Regions from separate parts of the Homo sapiens genome. Here regions 2 and 3 are each linked to region 1. Evidence: fine-mapped expression QTL. A gene starts in region 1. Each other region holds a variant in brackets. All regions are shown on one strand. Distances are from middle to middle.

What was found. PIP is the estimated chance that this variant, and not a neighbour inherited with it, causes the effect. A credible set is the group of variants that fine-mapping cannot tell apart.
Region 2: its variant is the best candidate, but not a certain one, in a credible set for the expression of SLC35E1 in whole blood (INTERVAL, PIP 0.54).
Region 3: its variant is the best candidate, but not a certain one, in a credible set for the expression of SLC35E1 in whole blood (TOPMed, PIP 0.50).

What each region holds. Positions count from the first base shown.
Region 1 is chr19:16,570,513-16,574,607 of GRCh38, forward strand. It overlaps SLC35E1 (solute carrier family 35 member E1), which reads right to left and starts at 1,903. Exons shown (of 6, transcript NM_024881.5): 1 at 1,432-1,903; 2 at 1,000-1,070. The coding sequence starts at 1,852. LOC105372295 (a long non-coding RNA gene) reads left to right here and starts at 2,038. Exons shown (of 3, transcript XR_936360.3): 1 at 2,038-2,296. RefSeq lists silencers at 1,270-1,399, 1,560-1,669, 1,800-2,019 and enhancers at 1,938-2,812, 2,120-2,209.
Region 2 is chr19:16,536,410-16,540,504 of GRCh38, forward strand. All of the region lies in intron 2 of CHERP (calcium homeostasis endoplasmic reticulum protein), which reads right to left. It also overlaps the pseudogene RN7SL146P. Among named protein-coding and RNA genes, the nearest start is that of CHERP, 4.0 kb to the right of the region's middle. The variant C/A (reference allele first, on the strand shown) is at 2,377.
Region 3 is chr19:16,516,271-16,520,365 of GRCh38, forward strand. C19orf44 (chromosome 19 open reading frame 44) reads left to right here. Exons shown (of 9, transcript NM_032207.4): 8 at 960-1,071; 9 at 3,824-4,095. The coding sequence ends at 1,031. It overlaps CHERP (calcium homeostasis endoplasmic reticulum protein), which reads right to left. Exons shown (of 17, transcript NM_006387.6): 14 at 4,094-4,095; 15 at 3,879-3,995; 16 at 3,351-3,445; 17 at 1,624-3,082. The coding sequence ends at 2,889. Among named protein-coding and RNA genes, the nearest start is that of C19orf44, 22 kb to the left of the region's middle. The variant G/C (reference allele first, on the strand shown) is at 1,873.

The DNA of each region.
Region 1 (4,095 bases):
CCACTTAAGAATACGGGATAAAGCTGTCTCCGGCTAAAGCCATGGCTATTCTTGCCCCAAGCCAGGAAATACCCTGGCTTGGCATCTTGAACAGAATTTGGACTGTGCCCAAAGCATCCTCCTTATGCAGCCCTGAGTCCTGTGTGCCACTTTCGCTTCCGTTCCCAGACCATCACAACTTCTGGCTGTTTTAATTTCTAAGACTTTGCTGGATTTTGCCAAGATCGAACTCCTTGGATCGCGTCTGGCTTCTGATCCCAGAGGTCCCCTGACAGAAATCTCTTGTCAAGAAGTGAAAACCTAGCCAAGTGCAGTGGCTGACGCCTGTAATACCAGCACTTTGGGAGGCTGAGGCGGACGGATCACTTGAGGTCAGGAGTTTGAGACCAGCCTGGCAACATGGTGAAACCCTGTCTCTATTAAAAATACAAAAAAATTAGCCAGGTGTGGTAGTGCACGTCTGTAGTCCCAACTACTTGAGAGGCTGAGGCAGGAGAACTGCTTGAACCTGGGAGGCGGAGGTTGCAGTGAGCTGAGATTGTGTCACTGGACTTCAGGCTGGGCAAGAGTAAAACTCCGTCTCAAAAAAAAAAAAAAAAAAGTGAACACCTAACCGACAGCGTTCTGATCCATCCATCCCTAGTCCCACTGGAAAGGCCACACATGGGGTGTATGGCCAAGATGTGACCAACCCATCACCTACCAGCAAACCCAGGTAGGGAATCAAAACGGGGAGGAAAATTGGATCTGAAAGGGACAACAGTGTTCCTAAGACCACACAGCAGAGATCACAGAGGGACACATACTCCACACACCACTGCTCACAGGGTGATTCTAGAACTTGAGTAGTAAAAGGCCACTGGAGACCTCTACACTGACTTCCCTATTTGACGGGAAGCCAGGCAGCCTGCAGACCAGGATCCTGACCACGTCACCAGTTGGCAACAGGGAGGAACCCCCTGGAGCTCCCATCTGCCCAGAGTCCCTGCCCGGGGTTACCTTGGTGCTCTGCTTCTCCTTCATAATGATCCGGGACAGGAGGACCACCCAGATGGGCATGGTGGCCTTGACTGCAAAGAGAGGGATGGGCACTCAGGGGGCTGCCTGAATTTCAGGGCCCAACCTGTTCCACCTCCACGGCGGGATGGGAGGGCCTGGCAGCCCCTCACACCTCTTCGCCCCTTCTCTTTCGGTAGGGCTTCCTCCTGCCACGGCTGTTGTGGTCTGTCCTGCTTACCTCTCAGCTCTCTTCTCAGCTCCTCTTCTCCCTGAGAACCCCGTGCGTGTCCCTCCCCTACCAAACCCTTGGCAGCCCCTCTGCTGACTTCTCAGTCCGGCGGGACGCGCCCCGGGCGGCGCACTCCTATCCATGCGCCCAAACCCGAAGCGGCGGGCCCGGCCGCCGCCCCCGAGGCCGGGCGCGGAACCTACCGGTGTGTGCATAGGACACGGGCACCTTCCAGATGCTGACGTGCGCTGACACGGACGCGAAGTACTTGCCGAAGGCGAGCGGTAGCACGTAGCGCGGGTAGAAGCGCGGCGGCAGCAGCGGGCCGGACGACGGATGCGGACTGGGTCCGGGGCCCGAGACGGGCGGCGCGGGGGGCACGCGCCAGGCGCGCAGCAGCGGCGGGAGCCCAGCGCACAGAGCCAGGATGTGGCACAGCGACACGGTCACCGGGAACGGGAAGGCGCTCAGGATCACCTTGTTGACCACGTTGCCGCCCGCGCTCAGCGCGTACCACAGCAGGCACAGCGCCGCCACCCGCGCGCCCTCGCGCGCCCCACCACTGCTGCTCGCTGCGCCCGGGCCCCCCGCGCCGTGGCCCGCGCCCACCGCGGCCGCCGCCATCCTGCCCGAGCGGCCGCCCCTTCCAGCCCGTCCGACGGCCCGACGCCGGGCGGGGGCGGGGCTGGGCGGGGGGGCAGGCGCCCCGGTCTACGCCGTTTCCCATTGGTCGCTGCCTCCTCGCGTCATCCCTCCGCGCCGGCCGACGCGCCAGCCACCACGTCTCGAGTGCAGGCCCAGTCCACTGTAGATGCGCTTCCGGCGGAGCCGAGGCCGGAAGCGGAAGAAGGGGACACAGACCTGCGTCCAAGCTGTGCCACCTGAGACGTGGGCGGTCCCAGTGACCGGGAGCCGGAGCTCGAACGGGACGGGCGAACAGAAGCGCGGAGGGCTTCGCAGCGTCGGCGTCTGTGCGTGGGCCAAACATCAGGGCCTCGACCAGGGATACAAGGGCAACCGCTAACTAGATTCCTGATTCCTGATGGCTGGCGGCGGCTGACACCAAAGGTAAAAGGCCTTTTAGGGAAAGAAACCATTTGTGAAAAGCTCTTGGGCTAAACTCGCTCTGCAAACTGGGGGCGCACGCTCGTGGCCAAACTCTGGCAGTGGGACTATCCCGGAGCACCCGATCCCTGGAATCATGTTCTGGAAACCACCGCGACGTGCGCAGTTCTCGGGCGTGGCCCTGGTATCATCCCACTGAATCCTAGGAACGCGGTGCGGTAGGTATCACTGTCCGCATTTCACAGACCGAAGTCCAGAATGGGGAAGCGACTTGTCTTAGGCTTCCTGGCCACACTGGGGACCGTGGTCATGGTAGCGTCCTTGGACACCTGTCTCCAAGGCTCTGCAGAAGGGGGAGGTGCCGGGCCCTGACGGCTGATGTCCAAGGACCAGCCGGGATGGACCAGCCCCAGGAGGCCCCAGTGGAGGAAAACAGGACGAGGTTTTCAGTAAGATGATCTTATACTAATTCAAGGGCTATAATTTGTTCTCCACATCGTGTGCCTCCAACTTTTTCGGGGAAAGGGTGTTAAAATTCCGTTACAGTGTTTTTACTTGTCAAATTAGAAGCAGCAACCGGCTGGGTGCAGTGAGTCAAGCTTGGAATCCCAGCACTTTGGGAGGCCAAGGTGGGCGGATTGCTTGAGCTCAGGAGTTGGAGATCGTGGCATCGATAACATGGCAGAACCTCATCTTTGCAAAAAATACAAAAATTAGCCAGGCGTGGTGGCGCACGCCTGTGGTACCCACTACTAGGGAGACTGAGGTGGGTGGATCGGCTTGAGCCCAGGTCAAGGTTCCAGTGAGCTATGATGGCGCCACTGCACTGCAGCCTGGGTGACAGAGCGAGACCCAGTCTCAAAGAAAAGTAGAAAGCAGCAACCCAACTTGGCTCCCCAAATGTTGGAAGGTATCTTAGCTTATCCTTGCATTCTCAAAGGCCCTAGGCCCTTCTGGATACATGGACACAGGCATGGTAGTCCCTGCAGGCAGGGGTAGTGGGGAGCTGCAACCTATCCCAAAACTCTAGAGATGCTGATAGGAGGCCAAGCTCTGCACCCTAATATCCTCCAGCTGTACCCTCTGTGGATCAGAGTAAAGTCACATCCTTGGGACACCATGTCTCAGCAGAGCTGTTAAACATAGGCACAGTGAAATTAGGAAAGTATAACTATAGGCACCCTACAGCACAGCTGAGTGTCAGATACTTCCACTGACACACTGACATGCTTTGTGTTTTAGTTCTCACAACTCTGGGGTATTCTCACCCCCCAAATGGGGACATGTGCACAGGAGTGAAGAGATGAGCTCAGAGCCACACAGCTGGTGGGTGGTAGGCCTGGGTTCAACCTCATCCTGCCTTCAAAGCCACTTTGCCCATGGCCTTTTGTTGGGGAGGGGAGTGTGTTCTGCACCAAGCTTTTGCCAGGAATCCCTGCTAGCTCTCAAACTGGCTCTGGACTGACTGTAGTCTTACAGGCTGGAAGGAACCTTTGGTTTGCCCTGTGAGACTGCATGTCTTAAGGTGTAGCTGTTTCTTCATTTGTGAAATTAAGCAGATATGGGTAAGATGACCTATTCCAAAGTGAAAAACTGGAAAACCAAAGTCTTAGCCTACAGTTTCAGGGACGAGGGGGAACTAAAAGATGAGCACTTTATAGTCAAGGGAGAAAAATTTTTTTGGAGTCAGCACCAACCAGCTAATAAGGCAGCTGGGGGCCAGGGCCATGGGGTGGCCTTTCAGACACACACACACAGCTCTGAGCCTCTGGGCCATACCTTGTAAGAACTAGGTATTTTGT
Region 2 (4,095 bases), 34 kb before region 1:
CGCCTGGTCTAAATGTGACCAGGTACCCCTGGAGCCCTCCAGAGCCCCACTCCAAGGGGACCAGGACAAAGCCAAAGATAAGGGAGGTGGGGTGTCAGGTGGAAGGTGTCGCCCCTCACTGGGCGCTCAAGTCAAGTCTCGGGGCTGACTGTGCCCTCCAGTTTGTGCACCCAAAGCCACCCTACAGGATGACCCCCAACTTCTGCACTGAATCCCACCCCTCCCACTGTCTGAGGGACACTGCTTATTGATATTTCTTCTATCTCTTATTTCTCCAACTCCTCCCTCTTTACCCGTCCCTCCCCAGCAGCATCTAAACACATTGGGCTGGGCATGATGGCTCACGCCTATAATCCCAGCACTTTGGGAGGACAAGGCGGGTGATCACCTGAGGTCAGGAGTTCGAGACCAGCCTGGCCAACATGGCCCTGTCTCTACTGAAAATGCAAAAAATTAGTCGGGCGTGGTGGCGGGCACCTGTAATCCCAGCTACCTGAGAGGCTGAGGCAGGAGAATTGCTTGAGCTTGCAAGGTGGAGGTTGCAGTGAGCCGAGATGGCGCCACTGCACTCCAGTGTGGGTGACAGAGTGAGACTCCATCTCAAAAAATAAAAAAGGAAATAAATAAACACATCAGAATATTCTGGGTTGGAAACTTCTCCCTTTACCCCATGATCCCTCTCTAAACGATTTCTCAGACAAGACTCACTCCAGATCTTCACCTCCCCTTTATCTCAGCCTGGTGCCTGCTTGCCACTCCCCGCACCCCCCTCCTTCCCCCAGGCAGCTGAGGACACCCTCACTCAACTCAGCCCCCCGGGCCTGTCGCAGGTGCTTGCCTCCCTTGGCCTCCATGTGTTCGCCCCCTCAGTCCCTTTCTCCCCCTTTACCAACCCCTCTCCCGTTGGACCCTCACATGCTGGGGTGCGCGGCCTGTGTTCTGAGCCCTGTCCTCCGCTCTACGCAACCGCCGGGCAACATGAGCTACTCATTCCTGTGGCTGCGATTGTGCATGGTGTGATTCCTAAATCCATCATCTCCATTCTGGATTCCTGAGCTTTGGCCCTAACCACCAACTGCACGGCCCACTGTGTTTCCAAGGGGCCTGTGTTTCCTCTCACCCCCTACACCTATGTCCCCTCCTGTGCTCCCCGCACCATGGTTGGCACCACCATCTGCCCAGAAACCCAGGCCAGAAGTAGCATGTGCCTCCCAGTGACGAGCCACATAGTGTCAAGGCGGCCTCCGAGACATCACTCCAATCAGTCTATGTCCCCGCTGTCACCACCATGGATCTGCTGTCACCTGCGTCACCCCAGAACCGGTCTTCCTGCATCAGGTCCCATCCCTCTACCTCTTTTTGACATGGCAGTCATGGTATTGCCACTTATGGAGTGGTCCCTGGGCTACCCAGCGGTGACAGACGGTTATGGAACCAGAAAGGGAGCATTTCAAAACCTTTCTAGCAGCGTGATGGTTCACGGTCCACATTGTTACTGTGCTTTGCAGAAGTTTTGGTCCACACACAACAGGTTAGAAACTTAAAACACAACACCAGAAATGGTCCTTCACCACAGAGTTCGTGAAGCTCCATTCTACAACAGTTGAGGCCCAGGCTTTAAGGCGTGGGGTGCAGAACTGGCTGTACTGTGGCTAACCCAGCTTCACAACACAGACCTAAACCTTCCACGAGTCTCTCCCACGCTTCCAGGATACACTCCTCACTCCTCTCCAAGCCAGGTCCCCGACTCCTCCCCAAGCCAGGCCTCCAACTCCTCCCCAAGCCAGGCTCCCAATTCTGCACCCCCACCTCTGGCCACTCCAAGAACCCCTCCTACTCTGGGCTTCAGCCACCCTAAGCTCTGGGTTCCCCATTCCCTCCAAGGGCTCCTTCCTCTGCCCGGAACACTTTTCTCCCCTTGTTTTCACCTGGCCAACTCCAACACACCCTTTACATCTAGCCAAGATATCATCACCCACAGAAAGCACTTCTTGGCTGGGTACGATGGCTCACGCCTGTAATCCCAGCACTTTGGGAAGCCAAGGTGGGCGGATCATGAGTTCAAGAGATCAAGACCATCCTGGCCAACATGGTGAAACCACATCTCTACTAAAAATACAAAAATTAGCTGGGTGTGGTGGCGCACGCCTGTAGTCCCAGCTACTTGGGAGGCTGAGGCAGGAGAATCGCTTGAATCTGGGAGGCAGAGGTTGCAGTGAGCCAAGATCTTGCCACTGTACTCCAGCCTGGGCAACAAGAGCAAGACTCCATCTCCAAAAAAAAAAGAAAGCACTTCTTGGCTTCAATCTTCCTGGGCTATAAGCATAAGCACCCTCTCCTTCCTCATAATGGCACCAGCTTCCAAGTGGCCACCCC[C/A]CCGCCCCAGAAAGGGAAAGCAGCCCTTAGCTCAGTCACCCAAGCCAAAGCACCGTCTGAGGTGTCTTCCTCCCCTGCTCATTACACCATCAGGTCGTCAATATGCAACTGGCGCCCAAGTTCATGGATTCTACCCCTTCACCCCACCTGCCCCCCATGCTCCCTCCCTCAGGCTCAACCTACTGACTTAATTCAGACCCCACCATCTCTCACCTAAACAACTGCCCTGTTTGCTCCCCTGCAGGCCTCACTGCTCCCCAGGCTGGTCCCTGTAGCTTGTCCTACACCACCGGCCACACAACCCAAGCCACCCTCTCCCTTGTTTAAAACTCTTGTGGCTTCCCGCTGCCTTTAGAAACGGTTTTTTTTTTTTTTTTTTTGAGACGGAGTCTCGCTCTGTCGCCCAGGCTGGAGTGCAGTGGTGCGATCTCGGCTCACTGCAAGCTCTGCCTCCCAGGTTCACGCCATTCTCCTGCCTCAGCCTCCCAAGTAGCTGGGACTACAGGCGCCCGCTACCACGCCTGGCTAATTTTTTGTATTTTTAGTAGAGACGGGGTTTCACCGTGTTAGCCAGGATGGTCTCGATCTCCTGACCTCGTGATCCGCCCGCCTCGGCCTCCCAAAGTGCTGGGATTACAGGCGTGAGCCACCGCGCCCGGCCTAGCAACGGTTTTAAACTTGGTGTGCTGGGGCTAAGGAAGGATCGCTCTAGAAACACATAAGCACATACAATATTTTGCTTACGATTTCAGGCAGCTGATCTCTCTCCACCCCACCCCCGCATCTCAAACCTAAATAGGCATCAGAAAAACCCCTGGATTGAGTGAAAAAACCCAAACTTTTCCCCTGGCAGTTAACACTCCAGGTCAAACTCTTCCCTCATACAAGCACATTCTTTTATTAAATAGATTCTCTACTATGTCACCCAGGCTGGAGTGCAGTGGCTATTTACAGGCGTGAGGCCACTACTGATCGGCACAGGAGTTTCGACCTGCTCCATTTCTGACCTGGGCCAGTTCACCACCCCTTAGACAGTCGAGTGGTCCCCAGCTCCCAGGGGGTCACCATACTGACACTGAACTTACTGCACACACTCAATCGACACAGCGCACTACAGCCCTGAACTCCCGGGCTCAAGCAACCCTCCAGCCTCAGCCTCTTGAGTAGCTGGGGGTACGGTGTGTGCCACTGTGCCTGGCAATACACACATAAACTCTCTCTCTGTTTCTTGTTCAAGAAACTGCCCCTTTGCAATGTTCTACTCTCTCAGCCTTTCAAGTTTTTGTTGTTGTTGTTGTTAGATGGAGTTTCGCTGTCTCCCAGGCTAGAGTGCAGTGGCACGATCTTGGCTCACTGCAACCTCCACCTCCCAGGTTCAAGCGATTCTCCTGCCTCAGCCTCCCGGGTAGCTGGGACTACAGGTGCCCACCACCATGCCTGGCTAATTTTTTTTGTATTTTTAGTAGAGATGGGGTTTCACCATGTTGGCCAGGCTGGTCTCGAACTCCTGACCTCAAGTGATCCGCCTGACTCAGCCTCCTAAAGTGCTGGGATTACAGGCACAAGCCACTGGGCCTGGCCTCCTTTCAAGCTGCTTTTTTTTTTTAGATGGAGTCTCATTCTGTCACCCAGGCTGGAGCGCAATGGTGTGGTCTCGGCTCAATGCAACCTCCAGCTCCCAGGTTCAAGCGATTCTTCTGCCTCAGCCTCTCCAGTAGC
Region 3 (4,095 bases), 54 kb before region 1:
ATTAAAAAATACAAGAAAACTAGTTTAAGTTTAGCATAGTGGTGTGTGCCCGTAGTCCCAGCTCTCTGGGAGGCTGAGGTGGGAGGATCACTTGAGCTGGGGAGGTTGAGGCTGTAGTGAGGGAGAAAGCGGGACTCTGTCTCAAACAAACAACCATAATGCAATAATACACAAACCAAATTTACTAAGTATCAAGGAATATCCAGTGTTGAGATTTCTGCTTGTCTGATTTAAAGTTGTGTGTTTTGTTCCGATTTGGTAATTCGGATCCAAAGTCCATACTATCCGATATGTCCTTTGAGCCTCTTAATCTAGAGCAGCGACCGGTTCTCAATGCTGAGCGGTTGGGGATCCCCTGGAAGCCCTGTGAAAGCGATGCTGGGCCCGCAAGCAGGCGGGGTGGGCCTGGAGCTAGGCGTTTCTCCCACATGCCCCGGGACGCTGCTTTGGAACTGTGCCGAGTCCCCTGCATGCCAGGCCTCTCGTTTCCTTGTGGTTTATCTGCTGAAGAGGGCAGGTTGTGAGTCCCACGGGTCTCTACAATGTCAACTTTGCTCATTGCAGCCCTCTGGGGGCTTTGAACTCATGCCTCTGTTGGGCGTCCATCAGCCCATCCGATGCAGGCAGAAGCCATCTGACTGTGCCACCTGGCTGCAGCCCACCATAGCTCCCAGCTGCTTGCTCCAGGCGCTTCTCCCTGATCTCAGCCACTCCAAGGGCACTCACAGGCACCCCTCCCTTTCTCTGTCAGGGCTCACCCCTCGCAGGGCTGACCCTCTACCCTGTGTTCCCACAGCCCCGTGCGCCAACCTGTCACACACATCCTGTGGTTTTACACTTCTGTCACTGACAGGAGCCTGCTGGGGACAGGTGCTGGCTCCACTCCCTCCTCCAGCACCCTGTCTCAGAGTGTACTGAGGTGACGATGGTGATGGCGTGGTCTGTTCTCTGCCTGACAGTACATTAGGTGCCACAGACCTGCCCCACTGACCATGGAGGATGCCCTGGAGGAGGTGAACAAGGAGCTGTGAGCGCCAGCAGGTGGAGCTTGACGTGACGTCTTAACAAAAGGTATCCCGTCCTGTGTACTCAGTGCACACACACGCACACAAACATAGAGCTCATCAGTGTCCAAGTGTGACGTTCCGTGGTGGGGGCAGGTGGTACTGGGGTGATGGACACACACACACACAGTCAGCATCCAGGTGTGACATTCCATGGTGGGGCAGGTGGTGCTGCGGTGAGGGCCCCAGACTCCTCTGAGCCAAATCCCAGCTCAGTGACAGCTCTCCCAGCAGCATGCCCAGCTCTATGACACCACAGGCCAGTGGAAATAGAATTTCAGTGGAGCTGTCCCCACTCACAGCAGGACAGGGGCCACCAGCCTCTGCAGAGCAGCTCCACCCAGGCAGGTCCTGGCATCCCAGTGAGCCAGAGGGAGACAGGGTGGATGGGAGAAGCCCTGCTCGAGGGTAAGGACATGGGACCAGGTCAGCACGCTGGGGACGCCATGTGAGCCCCTGGACACGGCCTCTGACCCCAGGCTGCACAGCTCAAACCAGGACATGTGTCTCCTCACTCAGCCCGTGCACACTTCTGACTTACACATGTGCGGGAGAAAGGTCTTTAAAAAAAGGCTTTATTTGAAGGCAAAACAATGAAATCCACAAGAAATTACTAACAGCACGTGTTTACGTTTTATCCTGAATCATACATTTTAACAATTCACAGCTACAGGAAATCTAGAACAAAATCAAATATTCATCACGTTGGGTTGAAAAGTTGGAAGATTTTGCATCTTATTGAAAAGAATTTTTCAAAAATGTTTCTGTACAAATGAATGGAATTGCACCAGGCTGCCCATGGACACCA[G/C]GTGTGGCCGATTCCCAACGGTCACCCACCAGCTTCTGGCAGGAGCAGCTCCCCTCCTGGCCTCCCCTCCCTTCGGGGGTGTGAAATGAAATGATGGAGTGGAAGGCGCTGGCTGGGGTCGGGCTCCATGCTCTGGATGGGACTGGGCCGTCGCACACGCCAGCCGGTGCAGGGTTCTTCCAAGTGCAAAACTCAAGCAGGGGACGCGACGGGCACAGACTCCGAGGCAGCGCTCAACCTGAAGTGTCTTAGGCTGGTTTCCTGTTAGAATCTTGTTTCCCAGATAACAGCAAATGGCTACATTCCAGAAAAAAAATATCAACTTATACAACTAAAATAACTGAACTAAGGGCCAGTACGCCTTCGAAGAATTAGGTTTCAGAATCTCACTGGGCCTCCTCTCAGGTCAGTATTCTTCTTTCTAGACCTAAACCAAGGAGAGTAAAAATGAAAACCCTGCTTCACTTCGCAAGTCAAGTCAAAGTTTTGTGTTTCTGTTTTTCAATCCGCGGGCAGTCATGGCACTGGGCTTCGGCTTTGTCCCTACACAGCCGAGGGGAAGCCAGGTCAGGGCCGGTGGGTGCGGGGAGCTGGAGGAAGGAGCTGGGGTGCCGGCTCTGGCTCAGGCCAACCCTTCCTGCACATGCTCCTCCTGGAGCCTAGGAGGAGGCTTCAATCTGACTTAGGGCAGATGCACATCCATCCCTTCGTGGCTGAAGAATTTACTCGGGCGGAGGGTCTTGTGTTTTTTGCTTCGCTATAAAGGAAAACGAGCCTGGGGCCCTGGTGGCTGCAGCGCCTCCTGGTGTGGTTTGTGGGTGGCACCCGTGCCCTCCACGCCATGGAGCACGGCGTTCCCACTGGGCATGCGCTGGTCTTCCTTCTCTTCCTGTGGCTCTCCACAAGTGGAGACGGTGTAAGAACTGAGCTGTCACTGCAATCTTCCTCTGCCAGTCAGCCAGGAAGGTCCCACAGCCGGCACCGCTGGCCACCGGCGCGGCTCCCGGCATGGGCGCCTACTTACACTCGTCCCTGGCCTTCATGCGGGCGATGAAGGAGTAGCTCTTGTTCCTGCGGTAGTTCTCATAGGGGTCATCCAGAGCCACGCCCACGCCTTTATACTGGTCCCACTTATCCCGGACGTCCCCGCCCTTGATGGGGTCCTGGATCCCTTGCTCCTTCGCACCGAGGCCGCCTGAGCCGCTCCAGCCTGGAAACAGAGACGCAGTCACAACCACAACAAGGCGGAGGCAGATGGGGGTGCACGTGGGGGGCTGAATGTCCAGACAGGCAGTGTAGACATGGGAAATGGGTAGAGAGAACCCGCAGGCCGGCCCTGTCTAGAGGGTCTGGGTGGAGTCAGAACCGGCCTGACTCCATCCATCCCCACATGCACTGAGGAAGAGAAAGCGCTGGTGACTCCCGGGCCCAGCACGCGTGAGGACCCATCCCGCGCCCTCCCCATTCCCTCGCCTTACCCATCTTCACCAGCATCTGATGGCCTTTGTTCTCTTCTCCGAGCCTTGAGTCAGGGATGGGAGGCGCCGAATTAGAACCCAGACCAGCAGAGGAACTAAAATCGAGACAGGTTATTCTTTTTAAGAAGTAACTGAGACATTTATTGGAATGACAGTGATGAGGACCTCACAGCCGCAGCTTGCGTGCATGCTCACTGTCACCAGGTGACACCGTATGCAGATTTTGCGTCTCTACCCGTTTATCCTGTCTCAGCTAGATAAGGGGGCTCCAGACGCTGGCCCCCACCCCACGCTCAGCATTGAGAGCAGGACACCTCCAACCCAGATGGTGGTTAGAAAGCAGACCCCAGTTACTGCCTCAGGCTTCGCCAAGTGGCTACTGTGGTGAAGGGTGAGGGGTGCCACTGTCCCCGGGCTAATGCTGGCGGCCTCCTAACACAGTCTCCTAACCACCAATGTTTCCACATTCACAGCAAAGCACCGCAGCTTCCCAGAGTTACCAGCGCAGCACTTAAGACAGGATCTTACGGCGGGGTGGGGCTCCTGGACCGTGACCGGCGTCTTCTTCCTGGGGAGTACGACTTGGACCGGGACCGCGACTGGGACCGGGAGCGGCTTCTGGAGGAGCGCGACCTGCTCCGACTTCTGCAGGGAAGGGTGCCCAAGGGTCAGCAGCAGCCAGGCGTCGTGGGGAGGCCACAGGAAGAGGCCTCAGGCACTGCCCTGAGGCAGCCTCTGCCTACCT